4 linked regions of the Homo sapiens genome follow. The protein of the gene in region 3 interacts with the protein of the main gene of each other region in a biochemical or structural test. Each region holds a gene or a part of one and is shown on either strand. Other genes may lie near its edges. The genes, in order: CHEK2, HIPK2, PML and RARA.

Region 1 (7,000 bases), on a different chromosome or scaffold from region 3:
CAGGAGATGAGGAGGGCACAGACAGTGTGTATGCGAGTAGCTCCCACCTCTCTGGATGCTCACTTCTGCAGGGTTCGAGGATTTGCATTAGGAAACCCTGAGAGGTGGTCTGGTGCAGCTCTCCCCATCTTCAGCAAGGTGAAAGGAACATCCATAACTAGGAATGTGGCCTTTGAGTGCTGGCCAGAAGCCCAGCTCAGCCACTCACAGGTGGCATGTGCAGAATACAGACCCAGAGTTATCTGATTCCAGTGCCTCATGTACTTTCCCACCCAACTCCAGCCCCTCCTCCCACTGAGCCAAGCATACCACAGTGGGGAAAGGGAGAGGATACAGTAAAGTCCTCCACCATTTGGCAATTTGATGGATATGGAAATTTTACAACACTAGGTTGGGCATGGTGGCTCATGCCTATAATCCCAGCACTTTGGGAGGCCAAGGTGGGAGAATTGCTTGAGGCCAGGAATTTGAGACCAGCCTGGGCAACATAGTGGGACTTCGTCACTACAAAAAAAATTAAAAATTAGGCCAGGCACGGAGGCTCACGCCTGTAATCCCAGCACTTTGGGAGGCCAAGGCAGGCGAATCGCCTGAGGTCGGAAGTTTGAGATCAGCCTGGCTAACATGGTGAAACCCCTTCTCTACTAAAAATACAAAATAAGCAGGGCATGGTAGTGCACGCCTGTAATCCCAGCTACTCAGGAGGCTGAGGCAGGAGAATCGCTTGAACTCAAGAGGCGGAGGTTGCAGTAAGCCAGGATCACACCACTGCACTCCAGCCTGGGCAAAAGAGTACAACACTGTCTCCAAAAAAAAAAAAAAAAAAATTTAAATTAGCCAGACATGGTGGCATGCACCTGTAGTCTCAGCTACTTGGGAGGCTGGGGCAGGAGGATCACTTGAGCCTGAAAGTCATGGTGCAGTGATCATGCCACTGCACTCCAGCCTAGGTGAGAGAGCAAGACCCTGAGGAAGGAAGAAAGGAAAGAAGCAAGGAAGGAAAAAGGGGAGGGGGGACGAAAGAAGGGAGGGGAAAGGAATGGAGGAGAGGGGAGGGGGAAGGAAGGAGGAAGAAAGAAAGAAGGAAAGAAGGACCAGGCACAGTGGCTCACGCCTGTAATCCCAGCACTTTGGGAGGCCAAGGCAGGGCAGATCACTTGAGGTCACTCTGTTTTGAGTTTCTCAGTGTAGCTCCCCATTGCCATTTGACAGCAGCAAGCTCATCTGGATTCTACTCCGCACCCTCTCACGGCCTTACTTAGGATCTCAATTATCTTGCAGTGTCACTCTCAAAAGTCCATCTCTTGGCAGCCCTTCAGTGAAGCCAAACAGAGTGGTCACAAGCCTAATCAGGCCTGTATTTAAAACAAGTAATCAGGTCAGGCACAGTGGCTCATGCCTGGAATCCCAGCACTTTGGGAGGCCAAGGTGGGTAGATAACCTGAGGTCAGGAGTTCGAGACCAGTCTGACCAACATGGTGAAACCCCATCTCTACTAAAAATACAAAAATGAGCTGGGATGGTGGCAGGCACCTGTAATCCCAGCCACTTGGGAGGCTGATGCAGGAGAATCACTTGAACCCAGAGGTAGAGGTTGCAGTGAGCTGAGATCACACCATTGCACTCCAGCCTGGTAGACAAAAGCAAGACTCCATCTCAAAAAAGGAAATAAATAAATAAACATTGATTTTCTTCATGATGTCTACAATTATTCCAAAATATTAAATTAGCCAGGAACAGTGGCTCGTGCCTATTATCCAAGCACTTTGTGAGGCTGAGGCGGGAGGATCCCTTAAGGCCAGGAGATCAAGGCTGCAGTGAGCTATAATTGCACCAGTGCACTCCAGTTTAGGCAACAGAAGAAGACCTTGTCTCCAACAGTAAATAAAATAAAAATTAAATTGTAATATCCCTTGAAAGTAAACAGAAGAAATCCTCTATTTCAGGCAGTAAATATGAGGCAGAGAGTAGATGTAAGGGATGCTCCCAAAACTGGGCACTCTGTTAATGACAAAACAGAGACCAGAATCCACATTCCCAACACTCAGTTCAGCGACAGACCCACAAAACCATTTGGTTTTTTCAAAAACACTGAATTTTCCCAAAATAAAACCCAAACTATCACTAACAGATGTTTTAGATGGTCAGTCTTCATCCTTGTCTTCATTCAATGCTCATTCCTCCTTTCACTGCAAAAACAAAAGGTGGCTAAAAGAGTATTCCAGGGAGATCCTGCAACAGAGTTGAACTTCACCTTCTCCTTGGTTGTTAATAAGTTTTCTTTGACACAAAAAAGTACAAGAAAGATAGGCTATGCTTGCTCATAAATTTCAGGCAGATGCAAACCCTGTTCCCAGGCTCAACTGGCCAGCTCTATTTTTTGTTAGAGATGAACACAGCTCCTGTACCTCTACATTTAGACCCAAGAGTTTCCCTATTAGGACACATGAAAAGAGCCAAAAGACATGTTTCTCTTTTTCATCAAAATTAAAATCCCCACATGCAAAGGCACCCTTTGTTTCCAAACCCCTTTCCTCCAGGGTCCCACTGTTTCAAATCTGTGTGGTCTATTAAATGCTAAATCATCTGACAGATTTCTTCTGGGGAGACTGTAGTTTCCAGGGCAACATCCAAACACATATATGTCTTTTTTTGTTTGTTTGTTTGTTTGTTTTAAGTTTTTGTTGTTCTCAACCTGAGCTGGCCTGAGCAAAACTGTTAGGTGTAGAGGATTGGAACAGAGAACAGGGACAGTCTTCCCAGAGTCCCAGAAGTACGGGTCGGAGGCTGGACTGCCCAAGGAGTTCCTGGACCAGTAATCCCCAGAGAAACAGCATTTAGCTCAAGTAACAGCCTCTAGCTCAAGCTACCAGTTCTGTCCCCCATCTCCACAGAAAACGGATTGATACAGTTTGGCTTTGTGTCCCTACCCAAATCTCATCTCAAATTGTAATCCCCAGGTGTTGAGAAAGGGACCTGTTGAGAGGTGATTGGCTCATGGGGGCAGTTTCCCCCAGGCTATTCTCGTGATAGTGAGTGAGTTCTCACCAGATCTGACAGTTTCATAAGAGGATCTTCGCCCTTCACTTCCTTCACAAGCTCTCTCACCTGCTGCCATTAAGACATGCCTTCTTCCCCTTCCACCATGATTATAAGTTTCCTGAGGCCTCCCCAGCCATGTGCAGCTGTGAGTCAGTTAAACCTCTTTTCTTTGTAAATTACCCAGTCTTGGGCAGTTCTTTATAGCAGTGTGAGAACAGACTAATACACAAACCAAAAAAAAATTCATAGAAAGGGGCATGTCTGTGCTGAATGGAACTGCTCATTACAGAAGACCAGACATCTATCAGAAAAACCTGCCCAATGCCGTGGCTAATTCTAAAACTAAAGATTAACCCAGCAAAGCCACAACATACTTCCAACTCTTGGCAGTTCCAGATGAGGTCAGCATTTAAAAATGGCAGCCCCAACCCCTAGCAGGAGCACAGCGGTAATACAGATGAAAAGTGCAGGTGACAGCCTTCATTAAGGACACATTTACTCACCTGAATGAACAAGCAGTGGGACCCTTTATACCCAGTCACTTGGGCTTGAGAAATAGCTGGATTCTCCCCAGGGAGGCTGTCCTCCTCCCCCTCCCCCACTTCCCTGATTTAAGGTTGAAGATGGCTGGAATGCACCCCACCTATGAAGAGCAGTGGACATGGCTGGGGGTAGAGCCAGAACAAGCACTCAAAAGAACACAGGCCAAACAGGAGACTCGGGGCAGCCAAGTGGAACCAGAACAGGACATAAAGTGAGCGTGTACATCCAACAGCCATGAGTAATATCAAAAAGGTTGTAGCCTGGCCAGCACGGCGAAACCCCATCTCTACAAAAAATACAAAAAGTAGCTGGGCATGGCAGCATGCACCTGTAATCCCAGCTACTTGGGAGGCTGAGGCAGGAGAATCACTTGAACCCGGGGGCCAGAGGTTGCAGTGAGCTGAGATCGTGCCACTGCACTCCAGCCAGGGTGACAGAACAAGAACCTGTCTCAAAAAAAAAAATAAAACAGGTTGTAACCCATCCTCCAAGATACCCCCCATACATCTAAAACAATTAGATTAAACACTCAACAAAGTAAACATGTTTCTGTCCTCTGTCTCATGTCTCTCAGGCAGCAGGGCTTCCCATGTATTTTATGCTAGCAGGCACTGTCCCACACCCACCTGAAGCCACGGGTGTCTTAAGGCTTCTTCTGTCGTAAAACGTGCCTTTGGATCCACTACCAACAACTTCTTGACAAGGTCCAGAGCTAAAGCAACAATTGGGCAAATCACAGTGAAAAGGATAAATATATTATCAGTAAGAGTATGCCAGAATTAACAGGCCACCATTCAGAAAGAGCAGAGAGGGTCTGAGATCATCACGGAGTCAGCAGACAGGGCCCCCTAATCTTCCTCACTCTCTGTATTCAGAGTACTGTGAGAAGACCAGGAATGATAATGACACTCCCTGTCTCCTGCTGCTGGGACGTCAGTCACGACCTCTTCACTGCCTGTTCCCTCTCTTGTTGCTAGACTCAAGGTCGGACTAATTAAAGCTAAACTTCTACCCAATTCTAAGATACTTGGGATGCACAGCAAACTCTCTCTGACATCTACAGATGGATAGGTGACAGTTACTCAGCGAGGGAGAGGCTCCCTGGAACTGCAGACTTGTCAGAAATAAAACTTGGCTACTCCAGCAAGCAACAAATGCACGCTGGCCTGTATATTACAACATTATTATTCCTTAAATATTCTGACATTTAACACAATCACCTATGTTATGTTATTTGACATTTAATTTTCTACTTTCTCTTCAGGGAACTAAAGTTGCCAGGATAAATTATAAAATACAAGGTAACTAATGACATCTAGTTTTTACATGCTTGCTTACTCAAAGGAAACCTTGTAACTAAAAAGTTACAAGTGCATTTATTTTGCTCACTAAAATAGGTACCAGGCACTTGTGTACATGATACTTAACCCTCACAAAAACCTTTTAAGGTAGGGTTTATTGAGGGTCCCTTTACACAGAAAGAAATTGGAGATGGAGGTTAAATAACTTGCCTAAGGCCACACAGCTAAGTAGTAGCAGACCCAGGACCTGAGTGCATGCTCTTAATAATTTCCAGTGCCTCTCAAATGGTGTGAAACTAACAATAGAAAATAAGAACAGAATTGACAGGAGAAAACACCATGGAATTTGGGAAGAAACTCCCACCACAGCACATACACATTTTAGCATACCACAAATTCTTAACCCTTTCATATTCATACCTTTCTCTGAGACTTCTGCCCAGACTTCAGGAATGAAGTTGTATTTTCCACTGGTGATCTGATCCTTCAGTGACACTTGAGTCCTATGCTCAGAGAAAGGTGGATACCCACTAAGGCTTAATATTGGTAGAGAGAGAAAGGAAAAGAAATCAAGTGGCATTCTCAGTGGCATTCAGATATAAAGATTTCTTTTTCAGCATAATGAAAAGTCAGATTTTTCTTTAAATCAATGGTCAAAAAGTGAGCTAGGCTGGGCACAATGCCTTAGGCTTGTAATCCCAGCACTTTGGGAGGCCGAGGCAGGAGGATCACTTGAGCCCAGGAGTTCGAGACCAGCCTGGGCAACATGGCAAAACCCCATCACTACAAAAAATAGAAAAATTAGCTGGGCATGGTGGTGTGCATCTGTAGTCCCAGCTACTCGGGAGGCTGAGGTGGGAGGATCACTTGACCCAGGAGGCAGAGGCTACAGTTAGCCAAGATCAAGCCACTGCATGCCAGCCTGGACAACAGAGCAAGACACATTTGTGACTTCATCTAATCACCTCCTACCAGTCTGTGCAGCAATGAAAATATTTCTTACCAGATAAAAAGAATAACTCCTAAACTCCAGCAGTCCACAGCACGGTTATACCCAGCAGTCCCAACAGAAACAAGAACTTCAGGCGCCAAGTAGGTGGGGGTTCCACATAAGGTTCTCATGAGAGAGGTCTCTCCCAAAATCTTGGAGTGCCCAAAATCAGTAATCTAAAATTCAGTACAAAAGGGAATAATGTTGAACTTGCCATAAAATAAAAAGATTAACATAGTCTGCCAGTCCAAGAAGACACGTAGGCTAGATCAGTTTCTATTGTACAATTCACACCTGCCATTAATCTGGAATTTACAGATTCATGTCTTTGCAAGTTAGGACATTTAATTTTGCTTAAATTAAAATTCCTGAGCCTAGGAATCTCAACACTCAGGCTTTCCAACTTAACCTATGTCCTCTGTAATCTTACAAAAAGCTTATTATCTTTATCACAGACACTTCAGGATTCTAATTAGTTCTACATGGTTCTTAGACCCCAGTGTCTCAAACTTGGCTGCGCTATGGAATACCTGGGGAGCTTGGAAACACATGCTTATACCTGAGTGCCACTCTCAGCTTCTGAGGTAAAGCCTGGGTGTCATAAATCCTAACAAGAGATTCTAAAGTGATGCCAGACTTGAGAAACAGGGAAAGGCAGCGCATGTGATTACTCATTCATTCATTCACCTATTCTGAGATGATGTCTGGCCCTTTTGCACAGGCTGGAGTGCAGTGGTGCGATCTCAGCTCACTGCAACTTCTGCCTCCCAGGTTCAAGTGATTCTCGTGTCTCAGCCTCCCAAGTAGCTGGGATTACAGACACCCACCACCATGCCCAGCTAAATTTTTGTATTTTTTGCCATGTTGGCCAGGTTGGTCTCAAACTCCTGACCTCAGGTGATCTGCCCACCTCGGCCTCCCAAAGTGCTGGGATTACAGGTGTGAGCCACCATACCCAGCCCACTCGTCCATTTAGACCCCTCCTCTCTCTCTAAGCACAAAGGTCACTTGTACACAACAGAGCTCAATAAATGCTCATTCGAATCTGGATAAGAGCAGTATCACCTGATCTCTAAAATAATTGGTAACAGTGAAAGGGTCAGATTCTCATCCTTTTTACGCT
Region 2 (6,996 bases), on a different chromosome or scaffold from region 3:
TACTATCTCCACCCATAAAACAGGACACATATTCAGGTAGAATTTAAGAAACCTGTATTTCCCTCCAAACTAGTTTCACCAAAGTCACTAATGCAACTCTTGTTGCTAAATCCAATTGATGCCTTTCTGCCTTTTTTTTTTTTTTTTTTTTTTTGAGATGGAATTTAGCTCTTGTTGCCTAGGCTAGAGTGCAATGGCACTAGAACTCGGCTCACTGCAACCTCTGCCTCCTGGGTTCAAGCGATTATCCTATCTCAGCCTCCCAAGTAGCTGGGATTACAGGTGCCCACCGCCACGTCTGGCTAATTTTTTTTGTGTTTTTAGTAGAGATGGAGTTTCATCATGTTGGCCAGGCTGGTCTCAAACTCTTGACCTCAGGTGATCTGCCTGCCTCAGCCTCCCAAAGTGCTGGGATTACAGGCGTGAGCCACAGCACCCAGCTGCTTTTCTGCTTTCATCTGACGTGGGCCTCTCAATAGCATGCAGCACTGTTGACCTTGCTGGGATGTTGAGGAATCCCCCGTCCTGGCTGTCCTCCAACTTCTCTGCCCTCTTGTCCATGGGGAGCTCTTTTTCCTCTTCCCATGTCTCAAATACTGGTACTCCCCAGGTTCTGTCACAGATCCTCTCTCCTCCCAGCTCCCATGCTCTCCTTCAGTGACATTTCACTGTTAGGTTTATACCTTGCTGCCACTTGACTGCAGTCACCGGAAGGAAAGGAGACAATTAGTATACTCAGTCTGCCAATTCATGAAGGAAAATCTAAGCTCATTTCAAGAATATTTTTCCGTTATATCATACGAACTTCGCTAGCTCAATTGAATGCATGTTTTGCATCTCATGGATACAGCTTCAGTCATGGTGGTCTGAAGAGAAGGTGGACCTCTGTCTGTATGGCTCCATCTTGTTCCCCTTCCATGGGACTCTATTTCCTTGCCCAAGATTGTTCCCTTCTTATGGGGAGGAGACTACCTGTAAAATGTTTTCGGTTGACACAAGTGATATTCATTTTAAGACTGCCTAGAATCACTCACTGCTAGACAGCAGCTGGGATGGACTTAGAGGCAGTTACTGAACACTGGTCAGTGCTGAATTCAGGGGCAGTCCTATAAAGCAGGGCCTTGCTCCAAGACGCTGCCAATCCAGTTATGAACACAGGGTACCTACACAGAAGACAAGAGTCAGCCATCTAGGGTGCGGGTATGCTGTGGACAACAGAGTGTGAGCAACAGGCAGGAAATGTTCTGTGAGCCTAAGGAAAGATGAGACAAAAGTCAGTGGGGCTGGTCAGAGGGAGGAGTTAGAATAATAATAACTTTTATTGAACCCCTACTATGTGTCTGCCCTCTATATAAAACTCTCTCTCTAATCTAACCCAGCCTCAGAGGCTGTGATGAGGACTATATGAAATGCCTTTTATCGAGTTTGTAGTGTTGTGCTGGACACAAGGGAGCATGCAACAAATTGCAGCTATCATCCATTCAACAAATATGTGTGCAGTACTCACCATGCGTTAGGCAATGCAGTTATTGGACATACAATCCAAAACAAGAAAAACATGGTTTCTGTCCTTACTGAGCTTACAGTCTAGAGACACCTTGTCCAAAATGGTAGCCACTAACCACCCATGGTTATTAAAATTAAAAATTCAGTTCCTCAGTCATACTAGCCACATTTCATGTGCTCCACAGACATAAGTAGCTACACTGCCATTATGGCAGCAAGTTCTAATGGCCAGCACTAGAAAGGGGCAGAGAGACATGCATGTAGGGTATGTATTAACAGGGAGTTACATACCTGTGTGGTGAAGGCTATGATAGAGATTTACAGATGCAAAAGGAGAACATTACTATTGTTCTCCTTCTCATAATCAAAATACAGACACTGAGGCTCAGAGAGGTTAAGCATTTTGACCAAGATCACATAGTTAAGTGGAAGAGCTAGGATTTGAACCTAGGTCTGACTTACTCCCACGCTATCTCGGGCTGTTTTGTGGAGGAGGTGAGCCAGGCACAGGTAGAATCTGCTTAAAGAGAGAAGATGGAGAAGGTACCCCTCTGGGAAAGTGGGTGGGAAAGTGACCGCTTGGGCAAAGGCACAGTGACAGAGATGGGTGAAGCTGGCACTGGGCTACAAGTAAACCAGTTTGGCTAGAGAAGCAGTGACTTGCTGAACTCATGTCCTTAGAAAGCTAAGTCAGGACTCGCCTGCCTTGATGAAAAGCCAAGGCACTCAGCCCCACCTGCAGAGGTTGAGTCCTTAGAGGATGTTAGCCAGGAGCGTGGCATGGCCAGAACCACGTATTATGAAGATGGCAATATTTAGGATGACCTGGGCCAAGACTAAAGTTAAAGATTGCAGGGAGGATAGAAGGGAAGGAGATAAATGACCGGTGTGGAGCAAAAAACACTAGAGTGGGAGCCACGAGACCTATTCCTAAGCTTCAATACTGTGTGACATTGGGCAACAGATTTTACTTCTCTGGACTCCATTTCTTCAACTCTAAAAGGGCAGGGCTGGCCCAGATGACCTCTGAGGTCCTTTTAGCAACAGTAGTCTAGGATTCTGCAAACGTGAATGGCATTAGGTTAAGAGAAGGGATAGGAAGTGTAGCATTGATTATGGGGGCAAGGAAGACCGCAGAGTACAAGATCACACAGAGGAAGGTGTCGTGATGTACCACTAAAAAAGTGTGAAAGAGCTTGCCTTTTTTGGGAAGGACTGAAGGATGGGAACGGAGGATGGAGACCGGAAAGGATAAGAAGTAGTGAGAAAATCACGAGGTTGTTTTTAAGAAAGTTATACAGTGTTAGAGATCATTATTTTACACAGATAGCTTTTCAACTTTTTTAAACCCACGATTCACAGACGGAAATAAAATTGACATCATGGTCCAGTACACTTGTCCAGTACCTATAATCGAAACAAAAGGTTTATGAAACAATAGTTGCCCTTACTAAGGGCAATGGACTCTAATATTTTCTATTGGATTCCATTTCGTTCTTTTTGAAAGCTGGTTGCCTTCCGCTGCATTTATTTTATGATCTATTACTGTGTCACGACCCACAGTTTTAAAAACAGTGCCTAAGAGGAGACTCAACAAGTCTTCCTAAGTTGGAGGGGATGGCAGGGCATCCTATCCAAGCATCCGGGAGGCAGCTGGAGAAGCAAACCTGGAGAGGCTCCCGGCTGGGGAGAGTCTGGAGAGTGTTTAGCGGAAGCCCTGATAGGAGAGAGCGCTGAGAAAAGCGAGGACCCAGAGAGTTGTGAGCTCCCATTCAAGTGATGGAGTGGCGGCCCTCGGGACAGTGTAGACGCGAGGAGGAGAAGATCAGGGTGGCGTGGAAGCCAGACTCCGGCAGGAACCCAGCGACCACCCCGGGGGCTGCATTTCCGCGGCGTGCACGGCAGGGCTTCGGTGCCTCTGACCTCGTGTGGCTTTCCGAAGCTCCTCCACTCACCCGCCCTCCTCCGGAGCACGGCGCGCGCCCACTCCTTCATTCATTCATTCCACTCCTACCTCCGCGAGCGCCAACCGGCTGTGAGATGGGCGAGCCACTTTGCCAGCGTGGGGCTCTCTTTCGGGTCGGTTCCCTCCCCGCCAGCACACGCGCGAACCCTCGCACCTGGGCACACACGCGCGCGCGTGCACACACACACACAAAGTTCTGGGGGCCCCTCTGCAGACCGGCTCGGCTGCGCTGGGCTCGGAGCCGTGCGCCCGCCGGGTCCAGGCCGGCCCTCTCACCCACTACCCGGGGCCCGCCCTGCGCCCAGTCCCCCCGCGCTGCGCGGCAGCCCCTCCCAGCGCGGTCCCCTCGGGCCGCCGGCGCGGCTCTGCCCTTCGGTTCGGCCTTCCCCGCCTCGCATCCGTGCCATCGGCGCTCGATTGCGCGCGGACTCCCTGTGGCTCTCCCGGCCCCGCGCCCCGCCCCCGCCCCCGCCCGCCGCCCCCCTCCGCCAGCAACTTTTGCGGAGCCCCCGCGCCCAGCCATGCTGAGCTGAGCCCCGCCGGCCCTGGCCGCGCGCTGCCCCCGGCTCCCGCCCCTCCGCGGATCCGCTCGGGGGCCGCGGCCGCTCGGCGCCTCGGCCTCGGCCGCTCCGCCCGCCCGGCCGCCCCGAGCCCCGAGCCCCGAGCCCCCCGCGCCGGGCCCGGGCGGCAGCGGCGGCGGCGGCGGCGGCGGCGCGCCCGGCCCCCTCCCCCGGCGCCGGCCACGGGAGGCGGTGATGCGGGCGCGGGCGGCCTCGGCTGCGCCGAGAGCGGAGACACAGGCTCAAGATGGCAGATTCCGACTGAGGCTGGGGGGGCCGAGCTCGCGCGCCGCTTTCCCGTCCCCGTTGCCATGAACCGCGGACACCCCGGCCCCGATGGCCCCCGTGTACGAAGGTAAGGGGCGCCCGGCCCCGCCGACCCCGCGCCCGCCGCCCTCCGCGGCCCCCGCAGCTTTGTTCTGCCCGCGGCCCCGCGCCCGCAGCCCCCGGCGCCTGCCCCAGCCCCCACCCGGGGCCCGAGGGGGCCGCGACCCCCTCCCTCGCCCGGAAGATGACCGGGACCCGGCGCCGGCAGGGTCTTGCTTCCAGGGCGGGGAGAGGGGCCGGGGGCGCAGGAGGGGAGGGGGCGTGTGCGAGGGTGGGCGGCTGCCCGGGGAGGGCAGGGACGCCGGGGAAGGCGGACCGGTGACTGTGCTTTTTATTTATTTGCGATAAATGAAGGTGATGCGGCTTAGCTTCCACCGCCCCCCCACATTACCTTTCGGAGCACCTCCTTTCCACTTCGCTCTCCGCCCCGCGCCCCTTCCCATTTCTTTCCGCGCCCACCCCACGCTCCTTTATTCTCCGCGAGCCTCCGATTTTGGGGGGGCTGTGGAATCGGAATGCACGGGGCTAGGTGGGGAGAGAGGAGAGAGATGAAAAGTCCATGTCAGAGCCAGGCAGAACAATGAAATAGGCGAAAATCTCCCCTCATTAGCGTGTGGAAGGGGACGTGGACTTTGGGTTTTCCAGCCGGGGGAGCGGCGGAGACGTTTTTCTGGCTCGGTCTGGGTCGATCTGTGTTGTGCACCTTCACCTGGCATCGGGGTATTTTTCCCCATTTGACTGCCTTTAGCAAGAAAGAAAAGAACGCAAGGCAGAAAAGCAGTAGGTCTGCCTCGCACACTGTCTTTCGTTTCTCTTCAGTCCGTTCTGTCAGCTTCCAGCCAGAAAGCAACCCAGAATCAACTAAGTTTTTACACTTCGATGTGTTTTTGTGTGCTTGTAGTAGGAGAAATTTTAAACCCAAGTGTGTCTGATTTTTCAGTCGTTTCATCGTGTAAATGTTTGTCTCATGAAATCATTGAAATCGCAGCCTTCACATACTTTTAGCGTGGGTCCCCCGGCTTTCTTTCGGTTTTGTTCAGATATTCTGTGGATGAAATCGCAAATGAGAGGGGACAGGGTTTGTGTGGCACAGAGGAGGGCACGAGGGGGGAATGTAATCCTCCTGTAAATCCGGAGAACAGTTGTGGCCAGTGAGACAGGGAAGGCATTAATAGTTTTATCTCTGTTATAAGAGGCTGATTAAAAAAAAAAAAACTTAAAAGAAAATCTGTTATTAGTTTCAGGGCTCCAAATGAATTAGGTTTCTGGCCGGAATAAAGTTACCAGTCAGGCCCTGGATAACGAGGCTGTAAATAACCTATAGACTGTAAATATTTTTTTTTCAGACTCTCTTAGAAACAAAGGGGCTGTTTAGAAGGCAACAGAGAGATGTTATTCCAGGGGCTTTCCTCTTTGATTCTGAAGAACACAAGGTCCATTTAACCATTCGACAAAACAAAACGAAATTTCTGATCACTCCACCACGCAGAATAGAACATGCCGGTGGACATGTGAACATGCGGGAGAACCCATGTCGGGCGTTCATTGTTCATCTGCGTCTACAGGAGGGGGCTACAGTCAATGCTCCCACTGTCTAGAGTGTTAAAATGAAACAATTTTCTCTTTATTAAGTACCTCCTTGAGACTCCCTCTGCTGGACACTCCCGGTGAGTTGAGAGAAGGAACTTGGCATTGAATTCAGAACTATAGTAAACGGCTGGTTTCCCTGTTACTAGGGACCGGGTATGTGAGTTGGGGTGTATTTTGTCAACTTTGTGGAAAGCCATCTTGGGAACTGCACTGTTCTCCTCCTGCTCCTTTCATTTTAAATCCATATGGAAGGTAGGCCATGCCCCCGAGGCTGAGACTTGGCTCTCCCCGTTCCTGCTACATTGTTCTTCCAGTTCCTTACGCCAGATAAAGAACTGCAGGTGTGTAGGGTGTTACGGTTTAAGAATAATCATGGATCTCAAAAGTCTCATGAACTGTTTTTATTTGCCAGCCTTCCTTCCCTGTCTCAGGTGACCTCCGCGGTGGCCTCTTTCAGCCCTCAGTTTCCCTCCATCTTGTCCGTGTGCCCTCTTCATTGTTCCTGCGCTGTGCACCCTTTTATTCCGGATGTTTATCTGTGCACCTTTATAATTATTTTTCTAATCTTCCTCCCCATCCCACCTCAACTGGCCCACATCAGTCTGCCAAAAGCCCAGATCTGGGTGTTTTTGAAAGAGATTGTTGGACATGCTCTAAAACAGACAGGTGACTTCTAGAATCAAGGATTAGGTTGCTAGGACCCGCATTCACTCACTGTGATGAGTGTGCCAAGACTCTGATGACCTCCTTTCTCCTGCCGTGGTGACATCCTCTGGGTTCAGGAAACCTGATTTTTCCCCTGTCTCAATCAGAGCACATGGACTCCCTGTGTGCATGCTAAACGAGCAGAGCTTTTCCTGTAGATTTCTATAAGAAGAGGGATTCCTTGTGGGTTTTGAGCTCCTAAAGAGTGTGCATGATTCTTCTCAGGAAAAGTATAACGACACGAGAGGGAATTGTTTCAATGGGGTGCTGCTGCACCAAGTTGGAATACCAGGTGAAGGCCCAGATACATTAATGGAGCGTTCTGAACCGCCAGAGATTTAG
Region 3 (7,047 bases):
TATATTCCAAGAGCAATACTCTATCTCAAAAAAAAAAAAAAAATTAAAAAGCAGAATACAATTTCCCTGAGATGAAGAGCTGAAGAAAGACTTGAGTTTTTCAGATCAACAATGGCGATAGAAGATTATTGAAAAAAGAAAAAATTATATAAAGATCTTTAGCAGGCTGGGCATGGGCTCAAGCCTGTAATCCCAGTGCTTTGGGCGGCTAAGGCAGGAGGATCACTTGAAGCCAGGAGTTTAGACCAGCCTGGGCAATATAGTGAGACCCTATCTCTACATAAAATTTTAAAAATTAGCCAGGCATGGTGGCAGGCACCTATAGTCCTAGCTACTCAGAGACTAAGGCTAGCAGACCTCTTGAGTCTAGGAGTTCGAGGTTACAGTGAGCTATGATCACACCACTGCACACCAGCCTGGGCAACAGAGCAAGAACTTATCTCTAAACAAACAAATAAACAAATGAAAACCATCCAACTATATTTATTAGCCAGGCACGGTGGCAGGTGCCTGTAGTCCTGGCTACTTGGGAGGTCAAGGTGGGAGGATTGCTTGAGCCCAGGAGTTTGAGGCTGCAGTGAACTCTGATTGCACCACTGCATTCCAACCTGGGTGACAGAGTGAGACCCCATCTCTAAAAAGTAAAATAAATAAAAATAAATAAAGATCCTTAACAAACAAAAACAGATTACTCACAGAGAAAAAATAGACCATTAGTGGACTTCTCATCTACAACACCAGAGACTAGAAATTTATGAAGCAAGGTTTATATATTCTGAGGTGAAAGCACTGTGATTATGACCTCAGAATTTTACACCTAGCTCAACTTTCCCTCACATGTGACAGCAAAAGAAGGACATACAAGTAAAGACACTTAAGGTCTCAGAAAGTAAACTCTGGAATAATTTTTTTAATTACTTGATGGAGTATTCCTGCCAAATGGAAAATTAATCACCTTAAATAATTCAAGAAAGGAGAAGAAAAGCTATAGGAAAACTTATCATGAGCAATGAAACCAATTAAAGTATAAGGTATGGCTAACAAGTGCGTTGTAATATGACCATGAAGCTTAATACCTGTTCAGAAAGGATGTTTACAAAAGAAAAAAAAATTAACAATTTGGTAGTAATCTGGAACTAAAAGTTCACATTATTTCAACTAAATCTGAAAGTGAGAAGGAAGAGGGAAGAAGAAAAACTATAAAAGTGTGCTAAATGTTTTATTTTCTCTGGAAGAATAGTTATATTCTACTCTTTGTGGTGATAGATGAGATAGGTTCTAGAGTGTGCATGTATGTGTGTGTTGGTGTGTGTATACACTTTTTTTTTCTGAGATGGAGTTTCACTCTTGTTGCCCAGGCTGGAGTGCAGTGGCACAATCTCAGCTCACTGCAACCTCCGCCTTCCAGTTTCAAGCAATTCTCCTACCTCAGCCTCCCGAGTAGCTGGGATTACAGGCGCCCGCCACCACGCCCGGCTAATTTTTGTATTTTTAATAGAGACGAGGTTTCACCATGTTGGTGAGGCTGGTATTGAACTCCTGACCTCATGATCCGCCTGCCTCAGCCTCCCAAAGTGCTGGGATTACAAGCGTGAGCCACTGCGCCTGGCCCACTTTTTTTCTTTTTTTAAGACAGAGTCTCATTGTGTCACCCAGGCTGGAGTGCAGTGGCGTGATCATGGCTCACTGCATCCTTGAACGGACAGGCTCAGGTGATCCTCTCTGAGGAATACCTCCACCTCCCGAATAGCTGGGACGAGAGGCATGTGCCACCATGTCCAGCTAATTTTGTATTTTTTTGTAGAGACGGGGTTTCACCATATTGCCCAGGCTGGCCTCAAACTCCTGGGCTCAAAATATCCACCGGCCTTGGCCTCCCAAAGTGTTGGGATTACAGGTGGAAGCCACCACATCTGGCCTATATATATGTTTTGATGGGGAAGTTACCACTCTGTAATTATCATTTAGAGAACTGGTGAAACAGAATGGAAGGAAAGGTAGAAAGTTTCGGCCAGACATGTTGGCTCACGCCTGTAATCCCAGCACTTTGGGAGGCTGAGGCGGGTGGATCACAAGGTCAGGAGATCAAGACCATCCTGGCCAACATAATGAAACCCCTTCTCTACTAAAAATACAAAAAAAAAAAAAAAACTTAGCCGGGCATGGTGGCACACGCCTGTAATCCCAGCTACTCAGGAGGCTGAGGCAGGAGAAACACTTGAACCCGGGAGGAGGAGGTTGCAGTGAGCCGAGATCATGCCACTGCACTCCAACCTGGATGACAGAGCAAGACTCCATCAAAAAAAAAAAAAAAAAAAGAAAAGAAAGAAAGGTAGAAAGTTTCAATAGCGTGGAGATACACACACACACACAAGCACTAGAACTTACATATATATGGATATATACATATAGATATATGCATATATACACATATATATTATATACATATATTTGTGTATGTATATATATGTGTGTACAACAAATACAACTTTTCAACTCTAAGGATTATTGCTAGGAATATGTGAGTCCAAGGAATATCCTAGGCCGCTAAGAAAATCTCAATATAGTCTTAGATGTAGAACTCATACAAACTGTATAAACTGGCCATAGTGCAGAAATTAACAAGTATGAAATCGCACCATCACATTCCAGCCTGGGTGACAGAACAAGAAACCAAACATCAAAACCACTTGAAAATTTTAGAAAACACTATTCTCTAAAACTTTTCAAGAGAAAAAAATTTCTTTTTTTTTTTTTTCGAGTCAGGGTCCGGTTCTGATGCTCTGGTTGGAGTGAAGTGGCACCATCACAGCTCACTGCAGGCTCAAATTCTTAGGTTCAAGCAACCCTCCTGCCTCAACCTCCCAAATAACTGGGACTACAAGCATGTACCACCGACCATGCCTGGCTAATTTTTTTTATTTTTTGTAAAGATGAGGTCTTGCTATGTTGCCCAGGCTGATCTCGAACTCTTGACCTTAAGCAAGAGAACCTTTTTAAGAAAAGACTGAAATGAAATTTGAGAAATGATTGACTATGAGAACACTAATGAAGTTATCAAAGTTATGGCATACAGCCAAAACCATATACAGAGAACTTATGCCTTAAAAGAGTTATTATTAGGCAGGGCATTGTAGCTCACGCCTGTAATCCCAGAACTTTGGGAGACTGAGGCGGGTGGATCACTTGAGGCCAGGAGTTCGAGACCAGCCTGGTCAACATGGGGAAACCCCGTCTCTACTAAAAATAAAAAAAATTAGCCAGGCATGGTGGTGGGCACCTGTAGTCTCAGCTACTGGGGAGGCTGAGGCAGGAGAATCACTTGAACCCAGGAGGCACAGGTTGCAGTGAGCCAAGATCTACCACTGCACTCCAGCCTGGGTGACAGAGGGAGATTCTCAAAAAAAAAAAAGTTATTATTATTAAACAATAAAGATTGCAAATAAATGAATTATAAGTTCAAGAAGCTAGAAAATGAATAATGACAAAAGTTAGAAGGAAGAAAATGACAAAAATAAAATGATCAAACAGAAAGAAGGAAAACATTAAAATCAGTAAGCAATCTAAGGAAAGACTAAAAGTACAGTACTTTGAAAAGACTGCTAAACCACAAATATACAACATCAGAAATAAAAAAAGGGGGTATAGTTACAGGCATATAGGAGATTTTTAAATAATGAAAGATAACTCAGGATGAACTGGAAAATCTTCCAAAAATCTGACACAAGAGCCAAAACAGATTAATGCCATGGCAAAAATGGGAAAAGTTCCCAAAAATCTACTATAAAAAAGGCACCAGTTCCAAGATGGTTTTTCAAAAAACTTTTATAAGCCTAAATTTCTTATATTCTTCAAATTGTTCTAGAGCAGAGAAATTATAATAGAATTTTAACATTCACTGAGTATTTAATATGTGCCAGGCACTACGCTAAACAATTTATATGTACAGTTGGCCCTCAGTATCTGCAGGTTACGCACCCGTGGATTCAACAAATCTTGGATCAAAAATATTCAGGCGAAAAAAAATCAATTAAAAAAGTACCACAATAAAAAAATATACAAATTCAAAAATATAGTAAAACAACTCTTTACATAGCATTTACATTGTATTAGGCATTATAAGTAATCTAGAGATGACTTAAAGTATACAGGAGGGGATGGGTACAGTGGCTCACACCTGTAATCCCAGCACTTTGAGAGGCCTAGGGAGGGTTGCTGCCTGAGCCCAAGAGTTCTCAAGACCAGTCTGGGCAATGTCGTGAAACCCTGTCTCTACAAAAAATTTAAAAATTAGCTGAGTGTGGTGGTGCACACCTGCAGTCCTGTATAATCTGGTGGCTGAGGTGGGAGGATTGTTTGAACCCAAGAGATTGAGGCTGCAGTGAGCCACGAGTGCAGCACTGCACTCCAGCCTGGGCGACAGAGCAAGACCCCGTCTCAAAAAATAAAAATAAAATAAAAAATAAAGTATACAGGAGGATGTGTAGAGGTTATATACAAATACTATGCCATTTTATATCAGAGACTTGAGCATCTATGAATTTGAAACAGACTCCCATGGATCCCGTGGGATGGCTGCATTATCACGTTCAAAACATGAAAGCTTACAAATTCATTAAGAAATTAGTATAAGGCTGGGCATGGTGGCTCATGCCTGTAATCCCAGAACTTTGGGAGGCCGAGGCAGGTGGATCACCTGAGGTCAGGAGACCAGCCTGACCATTATAGTGAAACCCTGTCTCTACTAAAAATGCCAAAAAATTAGCCAGGCATGATGATGTGCACCTGTAATCGCAGCTACTTGGGAGGCTGAGGCAGGAAAATGGCGTGAACCCGGGAGGTGGAGGTTGCAGTGAGCCGAGATCGCGCCACTGCACTCCAGCCTGGGTGACACAGCGAGACTCCATCTCAAAAAAAAAAAAAAAAAATTAAAAAAAATTTTTTAAATCCAAAAGATAGAACCAGAGATAAAGCCAATTTCTCCTAATTTATTGCAATTTCAATCAAAATCCAATAAATATGTAAGTTTTAAAACTGCATAAATTGTAAGAGCAAAAGAAATGCATACATTTTTTTCTTTCGAGGAATTTGTTCCTGAATTCTTTAATTAGTCCCTTAATTCCTCAACGGAAACAACAACAACAACAGGCAAAGGACCTAAACAGGCCACTCGCAAATGCAGAAACACAATGGCCAATAAACAAGTGGAAAGCCACTCAACCTTTACAATAAGCTAAGAAACGTGGTGATACCAGCTGTTGAGGAGTCGGAGGGGAAAGCTTATTCTGATAGTGTGGGAAGTTTATCCTAAAGCAGGAAACAAATCACAGTCAGTTTAGCAGATATGTAGTTCAGCAAATATGTGGTTTAGCCATATATAGTTCTGAGTTGTCAAAAACCAGCGAAAAATGCTTTCATTTTGCAAGTGGATCTCTAAGAACCAAGAAGCGCCTTCTATGAACAATCTATTGCTAATGGTGAAAAGTTCACATAGTTATGCTACCTTTTTGGCTAAAAGAGGGAAAATAGGACCTGATAAGATTGCTCCTACCTGCATATATATTCGTAAAGAAACTCTCAGAAGAAACATTCAAAACTAGTAACAATGGCTACCTGTGGATGGGAAGAGGGAGAAGTGGTGGGAATTAGGCAGTTGGGCATGGACAGAAGATTGCACTCTCTCTCTCCTCTTTACAAATTTTGTTCGTGAACTGTACGAATGTATTACCTATTAAAAAACTGAGTTAAAATCTGTTTAATAAAAATAATTACAACTGGATGTGATTTTTTTTCCCCATACAGACATTCTCAGATAGCGCTGCCTGGTGTTAATGGTTTCAACTTTTCAGACAGAAACTAACTACTTGTCTCTGATCCTAGAATCCAGCCTTACTGAGATTCCGTGTCAGTGCTCTCGGAAAATTCCACTAAATTCTAAAGGGCAGTTTGGTAACATGTATCAAATGTAGAATTCCCGTCCCCCTACACCCAGCAGTGGCACTTCTAAAAATTTATCCTAAAGAAGTTACTGGATAAAGATGCAAAGATGATTCTGCAGCATTATTTATTACAGGAGGAAACTGGAAACTTACTATCCACCTGCGTGGGGACTGGCAGCATAAATTGTGGTCATCAACACGGACACTGCATATCTGCAGACCACATTTAGAGTTGCAAGGCCCCAGAAGCTCCTTGTCCTCAGCTGTGTGACTCTTTGGATCTTTGCTCCTCTCGCCCTCTACCTGGTACTTGGATGCACCACCCCACCCTGTGCCGGCCTACTCACCTGGTCAGCGTAGGGGTGCGGTGGTTGGGGTTGGAGCAGAAGATGTTGTTGGTCTTGCGGGTGCCGTCCAGGAACTCACGCACCGACTGGTTGCGCAGCTCTGCTAGGGGCCGGGCCTCGTGCTTGAGGAACCACTGGTGTGCCTCGAAGCACTTGGCGCAGAGGAGCTGCTCGCACTCAAAGCACCAGAAGTCGGCCGACTCTTTGCAGCGGGTGCACACAGCCTGCGCATCCACAATCTGCCGGTACACCGACAGGCGCCGCTGCAGACTCTCGAAAAAGACGTTATCCAGGGCGGGTGTGTCTGCACCTAGGGGCCAGGGCGCCTGGCAGATGGGGCACTGCATGCCCGACGCCTCCAGGCATCCTGAGCACAGCGTGTGCAGACAAGGCAGCAGCTTCGGGCACTTGGCTTCCGCCTGGCATTGCTGGCAGCGCAGAAACTGGAACTCCTCCTCCGAAGCGGGGGCTCGCTGGGGGACCAGAGAGGCAGGTGAGGCCTGGAGAAGTCCCAAAAGCCCCCACCTACCGGCCAACCACCCTTACAGCTGGACCCTGGAGTAGGACCTCATATTCCATTCCAGCCAGTCATTGGATGATGCAAAACCCTGGCTTATCAGCACCCCAATACCCCCATTTATTCAGGCCCTCCAGCTCTCACTGCACCATTTATTGAGCATCTACTTCTCATCACCCACAGTAATAGGCTCTGAGATATAAGAGGTGTAGGATACATTCTGCCTTCAAGGAACTCAGTTTGG
Region 4 (4,011 bases), on a different chromosome or scaffold from region 3:
AAAATTCTATCAGACAGCATTGCTCCGGCCACCTGCCAGGTGGTCCTCCGGGAGTGCTGGTGCGGAGTGCTGGTGCCGAGTGCTCAGAGTGGGTTCGGGTTCAGTCCCTGAACCCAAGCATCCTCTGCACCCAGATCCTGCGGATCTGCACGCGGTACACGCCCGAGCAGGACACCATGACCTTCTCGGACGGGCTGACCCTGAACCGGACCCAGATGCACAACGCTGGCTTCGGCCCCCTCACCGACCTGGTCTTTGCCTTCGCCAACCAGCTGCTGCCCCTGGAGATGGATGATGCGGAGACGGGGCTGCTCAGCGCCATCTGCCTCATCTGCGGAGGTGGGCAGGGGGCCTGGGTCTGGGGGCTGGGCTGGGACGGGGGTGCAGCCCTGGAGTCTCTTCCAGGGAGCTCTTTCAGGCCACCTCTGTTAGGTATCTCTAGAGGGCAGGGTCTGGTCTGCAACTACACAGCAAGGGGGCCATGTGGGGCCTGGACTCCTGTTCCCGATTTCTGGGCAACACCCCTTCTAGGGAGGTTAAGAGTGAGGGTTTGAGGGTCGGACCAACCAGGGTCACCTCCTGGCCGATGCATGACCCTGAGCAGGTTGCTGAACTTCTCTGGGCCTCCGTTTCTGTACAGTGGGGGCGGTAACGGTCTCTAGCTCATGAAGTTGATGGGAGGATTACGGTGGTAACAGATACTGTGCAGGTGCCCAGAGCGAGCTCCAGTGCTTGTTAGTTGCTATTTTATTGTTGTGATTTCTGCCATTTCATCTGGTTTCCAGAATAACAGGGGGGAGTGGGAGCCTGCCTGGGAACCCTCTCCCTGCTTGAGGATGGCACTGCCCATTTGGGGTCCCATCCCACTAACTGGGCTCAGGGAGGGTTTGGGGCACCCCCTCACCCTCAGCTCCCGTTGCTCCCTTTTAAGGGCCTCTGTACCCTGCGGCAGCAGAGACCCCATGCCCTGCCCTGTGTGGGGAGGCGCCTGCGAGCTGCCCTCCTCCATGGCCTGGGCAGGCACGCCCCCCGGTGGCCGAGGCTGGGGGTGCAGCTGTGTTCCCAGCTGCTCAGGGGGTGGTTCTGCTTCCTCAGACCGCCAGGACCTGGAGCAGCCGGACCGGGTGGACATGCTGCAGGAGCCGCTGCTGGAGGCGCTAAAGGTCTACGTGCGGAAGCGGAGGCCCAGCCGCCCCCACATGTTCCCCAAGATGCTAATGAAGATTACTGACCTGCGAAGCATCAGCGCCAAGGGTGAGGCTCACAGACCTGGAGGGGTACCGGCCCCCGACACCTGGCCCAGGCCCCCACATCCAAGCCAGCACCCCATGTCTTTGTGCCAGGACAATACGACACCTGTCCCCATCTGTGTCTAGGCTGAGGTCCCCTAGTGACTCCACTTTGCCGAGGTGGCCCGCCTGTGTCACCTTTGTGTGGTAGTTCAGATCGTGGCTCTGGAACCAGACACGTGGGTGTGTGTCCTTGTGTGGGTCACTCAACAGCTCCTAGCTACAGTTTCCCTTCCGAGGGCGGGGATAACATTCGTGTTTACAGAGGGGTCGGGATGATCCCTAGCACACAGCACAGGGGAAGGAAGGGCTTGGCGTCTAGCCCAGGCCGGCAGTCTGGCCCTGGAGCCGGAGTTCGGGACCACTTTGCCCCATTGCCACCAGCCTCTGGACCTGGGGGCTTAAGAGAGCTGGCTCGTGTCAAAGAACTGAATCCCAAGAAAGATGCTAATATCAGCAGTATTGATCTTCCCACCTCGAGCCAGGCTTGCTGGGGCTGGGGGTGGGAGGGCTGGCCCAGCGTGCTGACCTCTGCCCCCTCCTTTCCTGCAGGGGCTGAGCGGGTGATCACGCTGAAGATGGAGATCCCGGGCTCCATGCCGCCTCTCATCCAGGAAATGTTGGAGAACTCAGAGGGCCTGGACACTCTGAGCGGACAGCCGGGGGGTGGGGGGCGGGACGGGGGTGGCCTGGCCCCCCCGCCAGGCAGCTGTAGCCCCAGCCTCAGCCCCAGCTCCAACAGAAGCAGCCCGGCCACCCACTCCCCGTGACCGCCCACGCCACATGGACACAGCCCTCGCCCTCCGCCCCGGCTTTTCTCTGCCTTTCTACCGACCATGTGACCCCGCACCAGCCCTGCCCCCACCTGCCCTCCCGGGCAGTACTGGGGACCTTCCCTGGGGGACGGGGAGGGAGGAGGCAGCGACTCCTTGGACAGAGGCCTGGGCCCTCAGTGGACTGCCTGCTCCCACAGCCTGGGCTGACGTCAGAGGCCGAGGCCAGGAACTGAGTGAGGCCCCTGGTCCTGGGTCTCAGGATGGGTCCTGGGGGCCTCGTGTTCATCAAGACACCCCTCTGCCCAGCTCACCACATCTTCATCACCAGCAAACGCCAGGACTTGGCTCCCCCATCCTCAGAACTCACAAGCCATTGCTCCCCAGCTGGGGAACCTCAACCTCCCCCCTGCCTCGGTTGGTGACAGAGGGGGTGGGACAGGGGCGGGGGGTTCCCCCTGTACATACCCTGCCATACCAACCCCAGGTATTAATTCTCGCTGGTTTTGTTTTTATTTTAATTTTTTTGTTTTGATTTTTTTAATAAGAATTTTCATTTTAAGCACATTTATACTGAAGGAATTTGTGCTGTGTATTGGGGGGAGCTGGATCCAGAGCTGGAGGGGGTGGGTCCGGGGGAGGGAGTGGCTCGGAAGGGGCCCCCACTCTCCTTTCATGTCCCTGTGCCCCCCAGTTCTCCTCCTCAGCCTTTTCCTCCTCAGTTTTCTCTTTAAAACTGTGAAGTACTAACTTTCCAAGGCCTGCCTTCCCCTCCCTCCCACTGGAGAAGCCGCCAGCCCCTTTCTCCCTCTGCCTGACCACTGGGTGTGGACGGTGTGGGGCAGCCCTGAAAGGACAGGCTCCTGGCCTTGGCACTTGCCTGCACCCACCATGAGGCATGGAGCAGGGCAGAGCAAGGGCCCCGGGACAGAGTTTTCCCAGACCTGGCTCCTCGGCAGAGCTGCCTCCCGTCAGGGCCCACATCATCTAGGCTCCCCAGCCCCCACTGTGAAGGGGCTGGCCAGGGGCCCGAGCTGCCCCCACCCCCGGCCTCAGCCACCAGCACCCCCATAGGGCCCCCAGACACCACACACATGCGCGTGCGCACACACACAAACACACACACACTGGACAGTAGATGGGCCGACACACACTTGGCCCGAGTTCCTCCATTTCCCTGGCCTGCCCCCCACCCCCAACCTGTCCCACCCCCGTGCCCCCTCCTTACCCCGCAGGACGGGCCTACAGGGGGGTCTCCCCTCACCCCTGCACCCCCAGCTGGGGGAGCTGGCTCTGCCCCGACCTCCTTCACCAGGGGTTGGGGCCCCTTCCCCTGGAGCCCGTGGGTGCACCTGTTACTGTTGGGCTTTCCACTGAGATCTACTGGATAAAGAATAAAGTTCTATTTATTCTACACATGCCTCCAGCCTTGCTGCCTCCACCCCCTCCTCTTGGCGTCTGGTCTGGGGGCTTGGGATGGGTTTCGTCATGTGCTCTGGGCCTGTGATGGCCAGGAATGAGCACTGGGGCCAAGGGGCTGGCCAGGGCACCCTTCCAAGCTGCCTTCTGAGGCTTACCTTGTGCTGGGGTCTTTGGAGATGCTGAGAAGGAGAAAGTCCTGCCCCTTGGGAAGCCCTCAGTCTGGGGATCCACACTGCCCATGTCAAGGAGCCCCAGTCTGGGAGTGGGAGAGAAGAGGAGGAAAGCTGCCCCCACCTTCAGGGAACCCCCAGTCTGAGGGAGGAAGCCGGAGCCACCCCTAGACATTTCTGGTCCTTGGGAAGCCTTCACCATCACGGCAGGAATGACAGATGGCACAGGAGCTGGGGTCAGGGACTCATAGAAACCTAACAAGAGGCCTGGCGCAGTGGCTCATGCCTGTAATTCCAGCACTTTGGGAGGCTGAGGTGGGCGGATCACTTGAGGTCAGGAGTTCAAAACCAGCCTGG

Evidence for each region.
Region 1: the proteins of PML (region 3) and CHEK2 form a complex in vitro, tested with the Homo sapiens proteins (2 studies listed by BioGRID, with this or other methods).
Region 2: of the proteins of PML (region 3) and HIPK2, one has a biochemical effect on the other in vitro, tested with the Homo sapiens proteins (2 studies listed by BioGRID).
Region 4: the proteins of PML (region 3) and RARA form a complex in vitro, tested with the Homo sapiens proteins (one study listed by BioGRID).

Annotation. Positions count from the first base shown.
Region 1 is NC_000022.11:28,689,821-28,696,820, forward strand, and holds part of CHEK2 (serine/threonine-protein kinase Chk2), read right to left. Parts: intron 6,054-7,000; coding exon 5,890-6,053; intron 5,423-5,889; coding exon 5,307-5,422; intron 4,298-5,306; coding exon 4,212-4,297; intron 1-4,211. UniProt on the Homo sapiens protein: Serine/threonine-protein kinase which is required for checkpoint-mediated cell cycle arrest, activation of DNA repair and apoptosis in response to the presence of DNA double-strand breaks.
Region 2 is NC_000007.14:139,774,996-139,781,991, reverse strand, and holds the start of HIPK2 (homeodomain-interacting protein kinase 2), read left to right. Parts: upstream 1-3,993; 5' UTR 3,994-4,368; coding exon 4,369-4,387; intron 4,388-5,844; exon of another isoform or gene 5,845-6,996.
Region 3 is NC_000015.10:73,997,716-74,004,762, reverse strand, and holds part of PML (protein PML), read right to left. Parts: intron 6,760-7,047; coding exon 6,287-6,759; intron 1-6,286.
Region 4 is NC_000017.11:40,354,168-40,358,178, forward strand, and holds the end of RARA (retinoic acid receptor alpha), read left to right. Parts: intron 1-134; coding exon 135-339; intron 340-1,095; coding exon 1,096-1,254; intron 1,255-1,841; coding exon 1,842-2,059; 3' UTR 2,060-3,476; downstream 3,477-4,011. UniProt on the Homo sapiens protein: Receptor for retinoic acid. Retinoic acid receptors bind as heterodimers to their target response elements in response to their ligands, all-trans or 9-cis retinoic acid, and regulate gene expression in various biological processes.